Regions from separate parts of the Homo sapiens genome. Here region 2 is linked to region 1. The links come from fine-mapping of genetic effects on gene expression. A gene starts in region 1. The other region holds a variant in brackets. All regions are shown on one strand. Distances are between the middles of the regions.

Region 1 (8,131 bases):
TGTGGAACCGCCCAGGTACACAGACCACCGCAAACCCCCAGTCAACCAGTCAAACACAGTAAGAAACACAGACCATCGCAAACCCCCAGTCAGCCAAACACAGCAGGAAACACAATGCTGAATTTCCACAAAGCTCATCCTTCCTAATGTTCCAAATAAACCTTTAAACCTGTGTGGGAATGAGAGTTCATGCCCTGCACGCAGGCTGCGTCACCTTCCTTACCCGTCGCAGTCACAAAGTGGGGGCCCCTCCTGCCCAGCGTCCTGCTGCTTTCAGGGACCCCAGGAGGGAGGTAGGGGAGGGAACAAGCACAGGGCCCTGGACGCGGCTTGGGGGACACGAGGGGGATGGGCAGAAGAGGCGGCAGATGGCGTGGTGGGGAACACAGGTGAGGTAGCATCACCATCCCATGGGCCACCTGCAGGCCCAGAGCCATGCTCCTGGGGAGTCACAGGCAGCTCCTGAAGCACGATGGGGTGCAGTGGAGAGGGGAAGCAGCTGCCAAGGCTCAAGTCATAGGCAGGCAGCAGCGACGGAGACAAGGAGACGACACAAACCGCTCTGGCATTCCTGGGCGCCTCCAGGTAGGTCACTCCAGAAGGAGGCAAAGGGACGCACAGAGGACCCTGAGTCATCAATGGTGTCGAGCCCTGGCTGGTCACAGAATCACCCTGAGTGGCCCAAGGGCCAAGGCAGAGGATGACATGGGCCGTCACTGCAGGCCCCCAAATGTAAGGACTGAAACCTTCACCTCCAGCTCCAACTGGGGAGCTCCGTGAGGGCCCCGCCCACCTCACTGTGCACAGGGCTGCAGCCTGGGCACTAGGAGCTCCAGCCAGGGATGGCTGGGGACCAAGAGCGATTCAGCAACACCAGGTCTAGCCCCATCCTCTAAGGTCAGGAAACAGAGACACAGAGTTCAGAGAGGCCGACCCAGGCTCCGCTGGGCACCTGTGATGTGCCAGACACTGAAAGCTGAGGGTCGACAGAGGCAGAAGAAGGGGTGCCTGGCTGGCTCTCAGGGTCCCCAGGAGCCAGCCAAGCAAAAGTCAAATTACAACGCTACCTTGGTACCCAGCGATCCTGCTCCTAAGTACACATCCAAAAAACCTGGAGGCAGGGTCTTCAGGAGACACCTGCACACCCATGTTCACAGCAGCGTCATTCGCAAGAGCCAAGAGGCAGAAACCACCCAAGTGGGCGCCAATGGAGTCAATAAGGAAAGCGCGGGCTTCCATCCACACAACATGGTTAATGCGGGCTTCCATCCACGTGACGGGGTACACGCAGGCTTCCGTCCACAAGACAGGGTAAACGTGGGCTTCTATCCACACAATGGGGTAAACGCGGGCTTCCAGCCACACAGTGGGGTATTTTTCAGACTTAGAAGGAAGGACTGGCACACTGGCTGACATCTGTAATCCCAGCACTTTGGGGGGCAGAGACAGGAGGATTGCTTGAGGCTAGGGGTTCAAGACTAGCCTGGGCAACATGGTGAGTCCCCATCTCTACAACAAATTTAAAAATTAGCCCGGCGTGGTGGTGGACACCTGTGGTCCCAGCTACTTGGGAGGCTGAGGAGGGAGGATCGCTTAAAGCCCAAAAGGCCAAGGCTGCAGTGAGTCGTGATTGTGCCACCACACTTCAGCATGGGCAACAGAGCAAGACCCTGTCTCAAAAAAAAAAAAAAAAAAAAAAAAAAAAAGGAGGCGAGGAAGGAAGGGAGGGAGGGAGAGGAAAGAAAGACAGGGAGGGAGGGAGGGAGAAAGGAAGGAAGGCAGGCAGCCAGCCAGGCAGCTGGGTACAGTGGCTCACGCCTGTGATCCCAGAACTTTGGAAGGCCAAGGCGGGTGGATCACGAGCTCAAGAGTTCAAGACCAGCCTGGCTGGTCTACTAAAAATACAAAATTTAGCCGGGCATGATAGCAGGCGCTTATAATCCCAGCTACTCGGGAGGCTGAGGCAGGGAATTACTTGAACCCGGGAGGCGGGGGTTGCAGTGAACCGAGATCGCGCCACTGTACTCCAGGCTGGGTGACAAGGGCAAAACTCCATCTCAAAAAAAAAAAAGAAACTGGAAAAAGTTTTAAGAAAATGCCTTACTCTTACGGACACCTAGGAGGTGAGAGGGAATACCTAAGAGAAAGCACAGAGCCATTGCTCACGGATGCCCAAGGAGGGGACGCACGAGCCCCCGGGGGTCGGGTGACAAACACGGTTCTCAAACTCATCCGAGACAATCAGTGAGCAGAGCCACGTGATTACACCCAGCACATGGGCACCGCTCTGCCTCACGCTCCAATGCCCTGGACCCACCGAGACCAGAGGATAGGAGGCAGCCAGATCCTGGAGTGCAAGAAGCTGCCCTTCCCTCAGGAAGCTCTCACCTGAACCCAAGGAGGGTCCACCAGACCCCCTTAACACATTCTCGAGACTGCGAGCCACATGCATCAAAATCACCTAGGAGGCCCGTGGCCCATGTGGTCCCCCCAGCTGGTGTGGACGAGGCCCGTGGATCTGCACTGCCGGCTGGTTCCCAGGGAACGTGCGAGAACCACCGGGCTTAGGAGACAGGCAGTGTACACGACTCCCTTCCAGCTTAAGGACGCAGGCATAGGTGGGGGGCCCAGAGCACAGCACTGAAACAGCTGGGGGTGATGGGAGGAACAGGCGTACTCCCATGCCGGGCTATATTGCTAATTTTTTTTTTTTTTGAGACAGAGTCTCACTGTTGCCCAGGCCGGAGTGCAGTGGCACAATCTCAGCTCACTGCAACCTCTGCCTCCTGCGTTTAAGCGATTCTCCTGCCTCAGCCTCCCGAGTAACTGGGATTACAGGCACCTGCCACCATGCCTGGCTAATTTTTGTATATTTAGTAGAGACAGGGTTTCACCATGTTGACCAGGCTGGTCTTGAACTCCTGACATCAGGTGATCCGCCTGCCTTGGCATCCCAAAGTGCTGGGATTACAGGCGTGAGCCACCGCGCCCGGCCTAATTTTTTTGTAGAGACAGAATCTTGCTGTTTCCCAGGCTGGTCCCAAACTCCTGGGCTCAAGCGATCCACTTGCCTAGGCCTCCTGAAGTATTTGGACTGCAGGTATGAGCCACTGCACCCGGATGCCTCTGAGTTTTAAAGACTGCTCGCACGTCCCAGGCCGGCCGTGGGCTTTCCTCTTGCTCCCAAAGCCCAAGCTCATCATGAGATCAGTTTAAACAGCAAATTCTACACACCCTGAAGTGAGTGGAACTTTCACCTACGCCTTAGGTCCTAAGGCATTCAACATTTTAAAATTAAATATTGCAAGAGGATCTTTTAATAGAAAGATCAGACTCCTGGCCGGGCACAGTGGCTCACGCCTGTCATTCCAGAACTTTGGGAGGCTGAGGCAGGTGGACCACCTGAGGTCAGGAGTTAAGAGATCAGCCTGGCCAACATGGTGAAACCCCATCTCTACTAAAAATACACACATACACAAAAATTAGTTGGGCATGGTGGCGCACGCCTGTAATCCCAGCTACTCGGGAGGTTGAGGCAGGAGAATCACTTGAACCCGGGAGGTGGATGCTGCAGTGAGCCGAGATCGTGTCACTGCACTCCAGCCTGGGTGACAGAGGGAGACTCGATCTCAAAAAAAAGAAAGAAAGAAAAAAAAAAGATCAGACTCCAGACCCGCCAGATACAAGCAGCAACAGTTAATCTTAGAAATGGATACTTGGAAAAGTTTCTCCTCCCACCAGTTACTCACAGAATGCACAGTGGAGACCCAGCTAGGCACACCCCGGACCCATCCAGACAGGAGTTCTGCACCTGCCGGACGACAGAGGCCTGGGGAGGCGCACAGGGCAAGCGGGAAGTGTCAGGTCTGTCAGGTGACACCGCCAAACAGAGCTCTGGAAAGAAGACAGAGGCCGGGCGCAGTGGCTCATTCCTGTAATCCCAGCACTTTGGGAGGAGAGGTGGGTGGATTACTTGAGCCCAGGAGTTCGAAACCAGCAAGACCCCACCCCTACAAAAAATACAAAAATTCAGCTGGGCGTGGTGGTGTGCGCCTATGGTCCCAGCTACTTTGGAGGCTGAGGTGGGAGGATCACTTGAGCTCAGGAGGTTGAGGTTGCACTGAGCCAAGATCACACCACTGCACTCCAGCCTGGGCGACAGAGTGAGGCCCTGTCAAAAAAAAAAAAAAAAGGACAAACCTGTGTCTGTGTGTCAATCTGGAAAAGTGGCACCACAGGAATGGGGCAAGCCTGTTTTTTCTGAGAACGAGACCCAGGGTGGCTGCAGGGCCACAGTGCAGGAGCGCTCTTCTGGACAGGGGTGGGCTGGCAGATGGCCACTCGTTCTGTGGCTACACAGCTGCAGGCCACGTGTATTTTTTTTTCCCAATGAAAATGGGCCTAGAGGCTGGGCATGGTGCCTCAGGCCTGTAATCTCAGGACTCTGGGAAGCCTAGGCATATGGATCGCTTGGGTACTCCGGAGGCTGAGGCACGAGGATCAGCTGAGTCCAGGAGGCAGAGGTTGCAGTGAGCCAAGATCGAGCCACGGCACTCCAGCCTGGGAGACAGAGCCAGACCCTGGCTCAAAAGAAAAACAAAAAAAAGATGGACCCTGGAGAGGCCCGGGGTCCCGCGGGGCGCCTTTTCTATTTCTTTACCGCAATCTGTTTAAAGAGAAAAGCAAGCGCCTGCCCCTCAGCTACACCCCCGGGGCCTCAAGGCCACGCCCACATGGGAGCTGCCCCCCCCCCCAACGACCAGGACGGTTCCCACGGGGGCGGGGCTTCACACGTGACCCGGGACAGCCAATCGCGGGCGCGCAGCGGAGGGGCGTGTCGCGCGGAACAAAAGGCCTTTCCCGAGCGGGGCGGGGCGGGGCCGAGATCACGCTGATGCCCACAGGACCGGCACGGCGTGGGGTGCAACAAGGGGCAGCCACCCACCTAGGAAAGGGTGCACAGTGGGGGCACCCACGGGGGCAGGCACCGGAGGGGGTGCCCACAGAGGATAGAGGACGCCGAGAAGTGACCTGGGGAGCCATAGGATGAGGAAGAGAGAAGAGATGACAGCAGGGGCTGTAGGAGGTCACCCTCCACGGAGGGAGGGGTGACGGCAGAGGCGTCCGCAGGAGCTGGTACCGGTGGGGCTGCCCCCAGGGGGGGCTGACAGAGGCAGCAACTGAGCAGGCAGGGGTGGAGCGAGGTGCCAGCCTGCCGTGGAAAGGAGACGCCAGCAGCGGGGGGCCCTCCTGGGGTCCCAGTCCTGCTCTGCCCCACAGCTCAGCCCCAGCACCTCCAGCCACAACCAAGAGCAACGCCTGATACGGGCTAAGGGTCTCTGCTCTCTGATACACATTCATGTGTAAAATAACAGGTTGGTAGTATCAACACCCAAAATAGAAATTTCTTTTTTTTTTTTTTTGAGTCTTGCTCTGTCGCCAAGGCTGGAGTGCAGTGGCGCGATCTCGGCTCACTGCAACCTCCGCCTCCCACGTTCACGCCATTCTCCTGCCTCAGCCTCCCAAGTAGCTGGGACTACAGGTGCCCGCCACCATGCCCAGCTAATTTTTCTGTATTTTTAGTAGAGACGGGGTTTCACCATGTAGGATGGTCTCGATCTCCCGACCTCGTGATCTGCCCGCCTCGGCCTCCCAAAGTGCTGGGATTACAGGCGTGAGCCACCGCGCCCAGCCAAAATAGAAATTTTAAAAACCAATGAACTAAAGAAAAGGAAGGCCCTGTCCTTATTCTGAACGTTCCTTTATTTACAAATTCCGAGGCAACCCTTAATGAGAACCAGAACGGGTACTTCAATAGGACAAACTGGCTATTCCCTTTGTTCAGCGATGAGAAAGTCCCACTCCCGTGGAATGAAGGATAATTATGGAGGAGAGATCTCAGGGGAGGCAGCCTGTCAGACACTTCCTAAAGGGCCGGTCGAAGCAAGTCATTCACACGCTACAAACAAAATCTTAAATAAAATAAGGAAATTTCCTTACTATGTGTGCATATACCCAGGTATCCAAAACAAAACACCAAACAGGCATCTTAGCCCCACTTACCACCCTCAATTATAAACTGTAAGCCATTCAGACAGCAGGCTAATATTTTTGTAATGATGTTATGGAACTGCTACTTGAGCACAGCTTGAAGTGACCACCTAGAGGCAGGCGCTTACTACAGCACTGTCCATCCCTGTAAGAACTGGATACCACCCTGTGCCTAGCAGTGAGGCTGAGTCCACACCAAGACACCCAGACTCCGCAACAAAAACTTATGAGGCCGGGCGCGGTGGCTCATGTCTGTAATCCCAGCACTTTTGGAGGCCAAGGCTAGCGGATCACCTGAGGTCAGGAGTTCAAGACCAGCCTGGCCAACATGGTGAAACCCATCTCTACTAAAAACACAAAAATTAGCCAGGCATGGTGGCACACGCCTGTAATCCCAGCTACTCAGGAGGCTGAGGTACAATAATTGCTTGAACCCAGGAGGCAGAGGATACAGGAGCCCAGATCGCACCACTTCACTCCAGTCTGGTAGATAAAGCGAGAGCGAGACTCCATCTCCAAAAAAAGAAACAGTTATGAAAAGATGCTTTCTCGCCGGGTGCAGGGCTGCACACCTGTAATCCCAGCACTTTGGGAGGCTAAGGTGGGAGGACTGCTTAAGTCCGGGAGGTCGAGGCTGCAGTGGGCTGTAATGGCACCACTGCACTCCAGCCTGGGTGACAAAGCAAGACCCTGTCTCAGAAAAAAAAAAAAAAGAGAGAAAAAGATGCTTTATCTTTATGCATTAAAAGCATCACCTGGCCAGGCACGGTGGCCCATGCCTGTAATCCCAGCACTTTGGGAGGCCGAGGCGGGTGGATCACCTGAGGTCAGGAGTTCGAGACCAGCCTGACCAACATGGAGAAACCCCATCTCTACTAAAAATACAAAATTAACCGGGCGTGGTGGCACATGCCTGTAATCCCAGCTACTTGGGAGGCTGAGGCAGGAGAATCGCTTGAACCCGGGAGGTAGAGGTTGCGGTGAGCCGAGATCACGCCACTGCACTCCAGCCTGGGTGACATAGAGTGCTGCCAATCAGTGCCCTGTATTCAACACTGGAGTGGGGTCAGACAGGCTGGGTGCTCGTCTTCACACTTCCAGGACCCCCACACCAGAGTTAAGCAGCAGTGGCCCTACTTGCAACTCAGGATCCCAGGTCTGGGCAGATAAGGGGCTTGACCAAGGGAAATCAGGGGCTGAGCCCAGACATCAACTAGACAAATACCTGCCTTTGAAAGCCCCATTTGCGGAAAACAGTGGCTTAAAAACCAATTCAATTATGCACTTTCAGAACCGCCTTGAAGTACATCACCATCCTAACCAAAATGGGCTGACTACATTATTTCAAGTTTAGGCATCAACCTGCCTTAACAACACTATGGCCGGGTGTGGTGGTTTGCACCTATAATCCCTGCACGTTGGAGAGGCCAAGGTGGGAAGATCGCTTGAGGCCGGGTAACACAGCGAGACTCCATCTCTACAAAAAAATTAAAAATGAGCCGAGGTGTGTGGTGGCTCACACCTGTAATCCTAGCACTCTGGGAGGCTGCGGTGGGAGGATCTCTTGGGTCCAGGAGTTTGAGACTGAGACCAGCCTGGACAATGTAGCAAAACCCCTTCTCTACTAAAAATACAAAAACAATTAGCCAGGCGTGGTGTAGAGAGTCTATAGCTCCAGAGGCTGAAGTGGGAGAATCACTTGAGCCCAGGAGGTAGAGGCTGCAATGAGCTGAGATCGTACCACTGCACTCCAGCCTGGGCAACCAGAGTGAGACTCGGTCTCAAAAACAAAATAATAAATAAAATAAAATAAATTAGCCAGGAGTGATAGAGCACTCCTGTGGTCCCAGCTGCTCAGGAGGCTGAGGCAGGAAGATGGTTTGAGCCCTGGAGGTTCAAGTTGCAGTGAGCCGTGTTCATGCCCCTGCACTCCAGCCCAGGGCACAGAGCAAGACCCTGTCTCAAAAAACAAAAACAGCCGGGCGCGGTGGCTCATGCCTGTAATCCCAGCACTTTGGGACGCCGAGGCGGGCAGATCACGAGGTCAGAAGTTCAAGACCAGCCTGACCAACATGTAGAA
Region 2 (8,131 bases), 29 kb before region 1:
AGGCAAAGCCACCCCTGCCTGTCCCTGAAGGGCCCTAGACCCCCTTCCTCCTGTCCTCACCTGGGACCGATGGTCCCTCCATGGCCCCAGGCAACCGCACCCCGGGGAAACCTGTCAGACCCGACCGTGGGGGTCGGCGCGCCGGGAACCTCCACAGCCTGGCCAGCCCCTGCCTGGTGCTCGGTTCAGACAAGCTGGGGCCCAGCAGAAGCAAAGAGGCGGTCACTGCCCCACCTACCCGACATCGAGTCCCGCCCTCGCAGACCTCCTGCAGCCTCACTCCCCACAACCCACCCCACCCAGCAGGGAGCTGGCTGAGCCAGGCAGGGCTGACTCGTCAGGACTTGGTGGCCATGTCAGGGTGACAGCAGGTTCACCACACAGGGGGCATCCCAAAAAACAGCTGGAGAAACAAGGACTCGGCAGCCAAGGGGCCGCAGAGGGACAAAACCCCACTCTGCCGGGGAAGACAGCTGGGGCCTTTCCAGACATTTTCAGCATAATCAGCAGGAAAGGCAGGAGGGTGACTTCTGAAGAAGAACGCTGCCCTAGCCGCACATGAGATTTGTCGGGAACACAGCTGTGGGGCACGTGGCCTGCACCTCACCCCTCTGCCCAGGCCTCCGCTTCTCCTCCCTGGAAGCAGCTGGCACCAGTCAGCGCCACGGGGACCATGGGAGCAACCACAGGGTGGCGGGTGGCCCCTCGCCCGAGGCCTGGCGCTCGGCGGTCACACCCCCCGAGCCCCCCAGGGCAGCCGGAGTATCCTCGTGCCGCGGTGGTGGCCCCAGCGGAGCACAGGCAGAGGCTGGCGTGGACGTGGCGCAGCTGGCAGGTCCGGGCCTCTGAACTTCACCCCGAATCTGGCCGCGCTCAGCAGCCACACTGTGTGGAGACCGTGCTCCACCACCCAGAGCGGCAGGCGGGAGAGAAGCCTGGCTCGGGAGTGGACGGTGGACTCCAGAGGCCGCAAGGCAGAGGCCACCCCCACCCCACTCCACCGCACAGCACGACCCAGACTCAACCCTCGTCCACACGCCAGCCGTGAGGGAATTTCCGGGGCGTGGAGGCCGGGCTGTGGCGCCACCTGGCAACACTGTCCTTCCCCATCCCGTCACAGAGGCAGCAGGGCCCAGGGCAGAGAACCTGAACCCCTGGGGCGTCCGGGACGGCACACGGCGCATGCGGGAGTGGCCTCCACTCCCACGGAGACACCGTTCCAATGAAGCTTTTAGGGACTTTCGAAGGTCTTATCCAGAAACTAGAGTAACAGGTTGGGGGTCGGGGCAGCCAGGCCAAGACCCCCTGGGGACCAGGAACCCACAGTAGCATCCGAAAATGCCTCAGCCCTCAAGGATGCTCATCGGCGGAGCCAAAGGCAGGCCTTGGGCCAGCCGCACCCAGAGCCATTCACTCCTCTCCTTCCCATTCACAGGACGGTGGCGTCCCTGAGCGGACATCCACCCTGGCCTGCAGGGTGGGCCAGCCCTCCCGGTCGCTGTCATCCACTTGACGTTCTCAGGCCATGGCTGAAGAGGGCAAGACCTCAAAGCCTGACTGAAGTCGTGCTGAGCAGCAGAGCCGAGACACTGCAGGCAGTGGCAGAGGACCACGCACTGAGCGGCCTTGGACAGGTGGCTCCAAGGCTGAAAGTGAGATCTGTGGCGGGCAGGGCCTCTTCCCTCCTCCCTCCAGGGCTGGGGCGCTCCTCCTCCCTCACTCCAAGGCTGGGGCACGCTCCTCCCTCCTCCCTCCAGGGCTGGGGCGCTCCTCCTCCCTCAGTCCAAGGCTGGGGCATGCTCCTCCCTCCTCCCTCACTCCAAGGCTGGGGCATGCTCCTCCCTCCTCCCTCCAGGGCTGGGGCGCTCCTCCTCCCTCTCTCCAGGGCTGGGGCACGCTCCTCCTCCACTCTCCCTCCTCCCTCCAGGGCTGGGGCACTCCTCTTCCCTCCTCCCTCACTCTAGGGCTGGGGTGCTCCTCTTCCCTCCTCCCTCCAGGGCTGGGGCACTCCTCCTCCCTCCTCTGAGGGCTTGGGGATGCTCCTCCTCCCTCTTTCCAGGGCTGGCACACTCCTCCTCCCTCCAGGGCTGGGGTGCACTCCTCCTCCTGGCGTCCATCCTCCTTCATGGCTGGCAGCTGCGTGGCTCCAGTGTCTGCCTCTGCTCTGGGGGCCACCTCTTCCGAGTGTCTGTCCAAGTTTCTTCTTATAGGGAGACTGGTCACTGGCTCAGGGTCCCACCCTACCGGCCTCATTTTAACCTGGTTATGAGGACCCTGCAGTAGCACCCTGCGATCTGTAGCAGGGGGATACATTCCAAGACCCCCCCATGGACGCCTGATGCTGCGGATAGCACGGAACCCCTATATACCAAGCTTTTTCCTATACGAACGTCCTCATTTGCACGTCAGGCCCAGTAAGAGATTAACAAGATTAACTGGTAACATAGATTTCAGCACCGCACAGTAATAAAAGTTACCTGCGCAAATGCTGTACACTGCTGTCCTGAACCCAGACCTCGCACCAGCAAATGAGGCAGTGGACAGCGAACCCTGGGATAAGAGGACCTGCTGTGTTTCCCTGCAACGCCACGTACCTAGGTGCGACGCCTGGGGTTCAGGTGCATCTTCCCCCGCCACACCCAGCCCCCCCAACCGAGATAGAGTCTTGCTCTGTCACCCAGGCTGGAGTGCAATGGCGCGATCTCAGCTCACTGCAACCTCCGCCTCCCAGGTTCAAGCTATTCTCCTGCCTCAGCCTCCTGAGCAGCTGGGACTACAGGTGCCCTCCACCACCCCCAGCTAATTTTGCATTTTTAGTAGAGACAGGTTTTCTCTATGTTGGTCAGGCTGGTCATGAACTCCCCACCTCAGGTGATCTGCTTGCCTCATCTCCCAAAGTGCTGGGATTACAGGTGCAAGCCACCATGCCCAGCCTCAAATGCAACTTTCAGGGGACACAATTCAACCCAGGACATGGGGGCCCACCTGCAGATGCCCCTGTTGGTCCTGCCCGTCCTCCCCAGGCCCCTCAGGACTCTGTATCAACAGATCTGGCCCCTGCTGTGCACAGCCCTCCCTCCCTGAGTCCTCCCTCAGAAAGGAGACCCCCCCTCTGCCTCCACTCCCCCTGCAGCTGTTTTCTGGGGCCTCCTCACCACTCACTCTGCCCACCGCTGCCCCGGGCCCTTCCCTCCAGCCCTGCGCCTGTGCCCTGAACTGCCTCTTGTCATAGGCACCAGCTTCCCTCCCAGGCCCACCCTCCTCCCTGAGGGCTGGCAGCCTCTCCTGTGGCCTGGACCCGCCCAACACAGTGGCTCTGCAGCCCCGAGCCCAGATGTCCAGCAGGGGCCAAAGCCCTTCCTCCTCCCTGGCAAAGGATCCCTTGCTTGTTCCCATGGCCCCACTGCAGGCCCTTCCCAGACACCACGTGTGCAGGGGCTGCTGGAAGCTGGCACTGCAGGATCCCTTCCTCATGGGCTGCTCGCTCAACCCACACCCCCTGAGGCCCATGCCCAGCCTGCCTTCATGCATTGCAATAGTAACCTTCCTACCAAGAAAAGCCTCATTGCATCCTGAATCCTGACCTGCAAGAAAGGAGGAAGCTTGTGCCCTTGCGCGTGCCGGTCACCGCTTCCCAATGGGTCCTTTGCCGGGCTCCTAACCTGCTGTGCCACTGCAGGCTCAGCCTGGCTGTGCCTTCCATTCAGTAAGATCAGCCACACCAGTCCCCAGAAAGCTGCTCGGCCTCCAAGCCCTGCATGGAATGCCCCCCACTACATCCTTGCAGGTGTCAGCCTGAACCATGTCAGGGCCCTGGACAGACTCACTGAGGACAGGCACCGACCCCCCAACCCGCAGGCCTGCCCACAGCCCCCTCATGCTCCCATACGGGGGCTTGATGACGGGCAGGGCCAAGCGGTTTGCCCATAGTCAGGTCAGCCAGGCTCGGGAACCTGGACCTGCCCTCTGCACCCAAGTCCCAGGATCAGGATATGGCAGCCCCTTCAGAGCTCACCGCCCCTCACACCTGGCAGAGATCCAGAAACTCCTCATGAAAATCAAAGACGCAAAGAAGTTGGGGGACAGGAACGGAGGCGCCTTTTCTCCCCTTGGAGTGGGGTGATCCCACCAGGCTCCGTGCTAAGTCGGCAGAAGCTTCACCCACCAGCTGCAGAGTGCGCAGCATGTGGAGGGGCTAAGCTGCCTTCAATGCTCACCCGACAAACTACGGCTCGCACTCAACTCAGAGGGCGTCAGCCACCACCTACCTCAGCCAAGTCACCTGTGCTGAAGCCCGGGAAGCTGCCTGGAGAGGGGACGTTCAGGGAGCGTGTGGGTGCCCCCGAGAGACTCCGGCCCCGCTTCAAAGCCAAGTGCCCCTCATCCAAAGAGAGCACCGGAGAGGGTCCTGGAGGCTCCACCACCCCTAGGGTGCTATCTAGGGCTCACTCCCAGAAATCAAGGGGGGAGACGGCTGCTGCACCGTCCTGGCCCACTTTCTCACCCGCAGCTTCTCCCCCACCTCACCTCACTGTTTCAAGGTTAGACCCAGATCTTCTGAAACATTCTCAAAGAAAGAGCTGACCCTTGTGCAGAGGCAAAATCTAGGTGAGGCTGGTCACCTAAGCGAGTACAGCTGGGTCAGGCCAGGCTGCCTCAGCCCCGGGCGTTAGGAAACCACCGGCCCCGCTGAGTCACCGCGACACAGCCCGGCTCTGCCGTGACACAGCACATTCAAGGCGCCGCGGTCCCCCGGGGTCAGGGACACGCGAGGACAAGCTACAGACTGCTCGGAACTCAGGACAGGGCGGGGGAGCCGCCGACGCCAGGGAAATTCCCGTACCACGCGGGCTGAGTGCAGGCGGGCCAGGCCAGGACGCAGGGGTCGGCCCTCCCCCGCCCCGTTCCCCTGCCCTCTCCTGCCCCGCTCCGCTCCGCTCTCCTGCCCCGCTCCCCTGCCCTCCCTCGGGGCACCGACCCCGCCTAGCTAGGGGA[C/A]GCAGGCGGCCCGAGCCCGCGCTGGGAAGCGGCGAGCGCCCGGCAGAGGCAGGTTCCGAGAAGGCGACGCCTTCGCCTCGCTCCGGGCCTCTGAGAAGCCCGGGCCCACCCCGCGGCTGTCACACCCGGCTCCGTGACGCGGGGGACGCACCTGGCGGGGGGCGCACCTAAGGGAGGGCCCGCTCCTGACCGCCGAGTAACGAGACCCGCACCTTGGCGGCGCACGGCTGCCACGCGCTGGGGCCGCCGCCAATGCTGACTCACGGTCCGCGGCCGCCCCGCGCCGCCGCCGGGGATTCAAACCCGGCCCGCGCCCCGCCCCCTCCGCGCTGGCCCCGCCCCGCAACGTGACTCGGCCCCGCCCCCGTCGCACTGGCCACGCCCCCCGCGCTGCCCTCCCCCAACCTTCCCCCCGACTCGGGCGCACCCGGTCCCCGCGGCTCCTGGCTACGAGCTGGGCGGGCAAGTGGGCGCGGGCAGCGGGGGCCAGAGGTCTTCAGGCAGAAAGCCCCAGAGCTGCCCCGCTGCCCGGCTCCTCCTGCCCTGCCCACCTGCACCTGCAGCTGCTCCGGGCGGACTCAGGTGAAACACGGTCGACCCAACAGGGGCGCTCGCGGGGCGGGGCGGCGTGAGCTGGGGCCGCTGCCTGCCCTGCAGGACCCTCCTCCCTCCCAAGTCCGCGTGCCTGCCCAGCCCCATCTAAACGCGGGGTACGGAGCTCGCAGGTCTCTCTTAATCTGAAACCTGTTCCTATGAAGTGTAAGATGAAGGAAAATGGAACCTATCAGATGGGTCTGAAATGATCCCACTAAAAATCCCTTAAATACAGAATCCGCTCATTTCTTCTATTCCGTGCTCCAGTCACAGTACACCTACAACCTGAAGGAAACTGTACTATTAACACAAGGAAAAAACGACCCAGTCTACACACCAGCTTTGTCCAAAACCCTCTACAACAGCTAATAAAATACACACGCAGCCAGGCGGGCCTACACCTGGGGCCAGACAGTCCCGGGAGCCATGGGCAGGGAGTCCCTGAGCCTGGGGCGCAGGAGTGCCCTGGGGTCAGCGGGCAGGACACTGCCTCCAGTGCCTGTGGCTAGTGCAGGGATGTAACTTTACAGCGATGTCTCAGACATGGACAGAGGAAAAAAGTGAGGCTGGCACTGGGTGGCAAAGCTCACAATTTCAGCCGCAGCAGCAGCAACAATACATTGCCTCTAACTAAGGCAGTGTCGATCCTGAAAAAAAAAAAAAATCCATCTCTTCACCTCTGAGTAGCTGGTTCAGGATTTTTTTTTTTTTTTTTTTGAGAACAAGTCTCGCTCTGTCACCCAGGCTGGAGTGCAGTGGCACGATCTCAGCTCACTACAACCTCCGCCTTTGCGGTCCAAGCAATTCTCGTGCCTCAACCACCTGAGTAGCTGGGATTACAGGAGCAAGCCACCACACCCAGCTAATTTTTGTATTTTTGGTAGAGATGGGGTTTCACCATGTTGGTCAGGCTAGTCTTGAACTCCTGACCTCAGGTGATCCACCCGCCCTGGCCTCCCAAAGTGCTGGGATTACAGGCGTGAGCCACTGCTCACGGCTCAGGAAATATTTAAGTAAATGAAAGAGTGTGCTTCAAGATCGCGAGTGACATACTAAAACAGGTCAAAAACGTACCTCAGATACGAAAGAATGGTTGGAAAAATGACTACAAATGTGCTAACTCCAGTCCATCTGAAGGTCAGCTACGCGGATGCAGCCACGCCTCTGTCAAGCACACAGGCACCTGGGTCGACTTTCCACCCGAGTGAGCACAGTCCAAGATGGTCTCTCTTGTTTGGGATTTAATTTTCCTAAATATTTTTCTGCTATGCTCAAATTCTAGCATTACTACTTTTAGGTTGGGGAAGAGAAACTTTATTTAAAAAGAATGTGTGCTTATTTGTTTAAAAGAAAAAAATAAGTGACCGGGTGTGGTGGCTCACGCCTGTAATCCCAGCATCTTGGGAGGCTGAGGTGGGCGGATCACCTGAGGTCAGGAGTTTGAGACCAGCCTGGCCAACATGGCAAAACCCCGTCTCTATTAAAAATACAAAAATTAGCCGGGCATGATGGCACACACCTGTAATCCCAGCTACTCCGGAGGCTGAGGAGGGAGAATCGCTTGAACCCGGAAGGCAGAGGTGGCAGTGAGGCAAGATTGTGCCATTGCACTCCAGCCTGCACAACAGAGCAAGAAAAAAAAAGAACCTGCTCAGAGGCCAGACCCTCATGGAGCTTTAGCCACTGTGTAGACTTCATCCCTGACCTCTGAGTTTCTGAAGGGGATGTGTGAATTTGAGGGTGTGATTTAGTAAGATCCAGGGCCCTGGATTATGCAACCCATGTATGATAGTGATCTCAAATTAAAACTAGCATGTTCTCACCGGGCCCGGTGGTGCCTGCCTGTGGTCTCAGCTCTACTTGAGAGGCTGATGCAGAAGCATCTCTGGAGCACAGGAGTTGGAGGCTGCAGCGAGCTGACTGTACCACTGCACTCCTGCCTGGGTGACAGGGCAAGACCCTGTCTTAAAAAATAAAACCCCAAAATGAACAAAAACAAACTCAGGGAAGGCCGTCACCTGTGGTGATCTCCAAGTGCTCTGTCCCTGGGCTGGGATGGAATGGGATGGGGGTGGGCACCCCAGCATATTCAACTCATGAGACCTCTCTGTTCAAGAGGAACAACATGTACGCCCTAGTTTCAAACTGAAAACACATGTGGGCTTGTTTCTGCCTGAGAGAAAGCTTAACACAGCACACAGCACTCCCACCCATGGAGTATTCACAGTTTTAAAAACCTACCCTTTACGGTGAAGCCCTAACAGGAGACATCCCACACCACATGCTTCCTCCTCCATAGAGGCTCCGAGAGAAGATGACTTCCAAAACAGGCCGGAGGGCGGAAGTTTGAGTCCTGTCCTGAAACCAGGTGAGCCCTCCATGGCAAGGCAGAAATGAGGAGCCCTTCCCTGGGCAGGGCAGCCCCATACTCCCAGCCAGTGAGGACGAAACAAACGCAAACACTGCTTGCGCCTGTGCCCCTGCCCCCGCCCCGACCAAGCCCCACCACTGGGCGCTGGGTCCATCCAGGATTCCCACTCTC

Which allele goes with the higher level. Alleles are on the strand shown, and positions count from the first base shown. SD is a standard deviation of normalised expression in the study named.
For the expression in prefrontal cortex of the gene that starts at base 4,877 in region 1, allele A in region 2 goes with a higher level than allele C (large effect, 0.84 SD a copy in ROSMAP).

What was found. PIP is the estimated chance that this variant, and not a neighbour inherited with it, causes the effect.
Region 2: its variant is fine-mapped to the expression of UNKL-AS1 in prefrontal cortex (ROSMAP, PIP 0.95).

Annotation. Positions count from the first base shown.
Region 1 is chr16:1,403,518-1,411,648 of GRCh38, forward strand. UNKL-AS1 (UNKL antisense RNA 1) reads left to right here and starts at 4,877. Exons shown (of 2, transcript NR_188570.1): 1 at 4,877-5,375. The region is part of intron 2 of UNKL (unk like zinc finger); the gene reads right to left. RefSeq lists silencers at 4,655-4,832, 4,711-4,760, 4,811-4,880, 5,151-5,300.
Region 2 is chr16:1,374,387-1,382,517 of GRCh38, forward strand. The region is part of intron 10 of UNKL (unk like zinc finger); the gene reads right to left. Among named protein-coding and RNA genes, the nearest start is that of GNPTG, 27 kb to the left of the region's middle. RefSeq lists an enhancer at 786-1,285 and silencers at 4,907-4,976, 5,047-5,096, 5,137-5,216, 5,247-5,386. The variant C/A (reference allele first, on the strand shown) is at 4,996.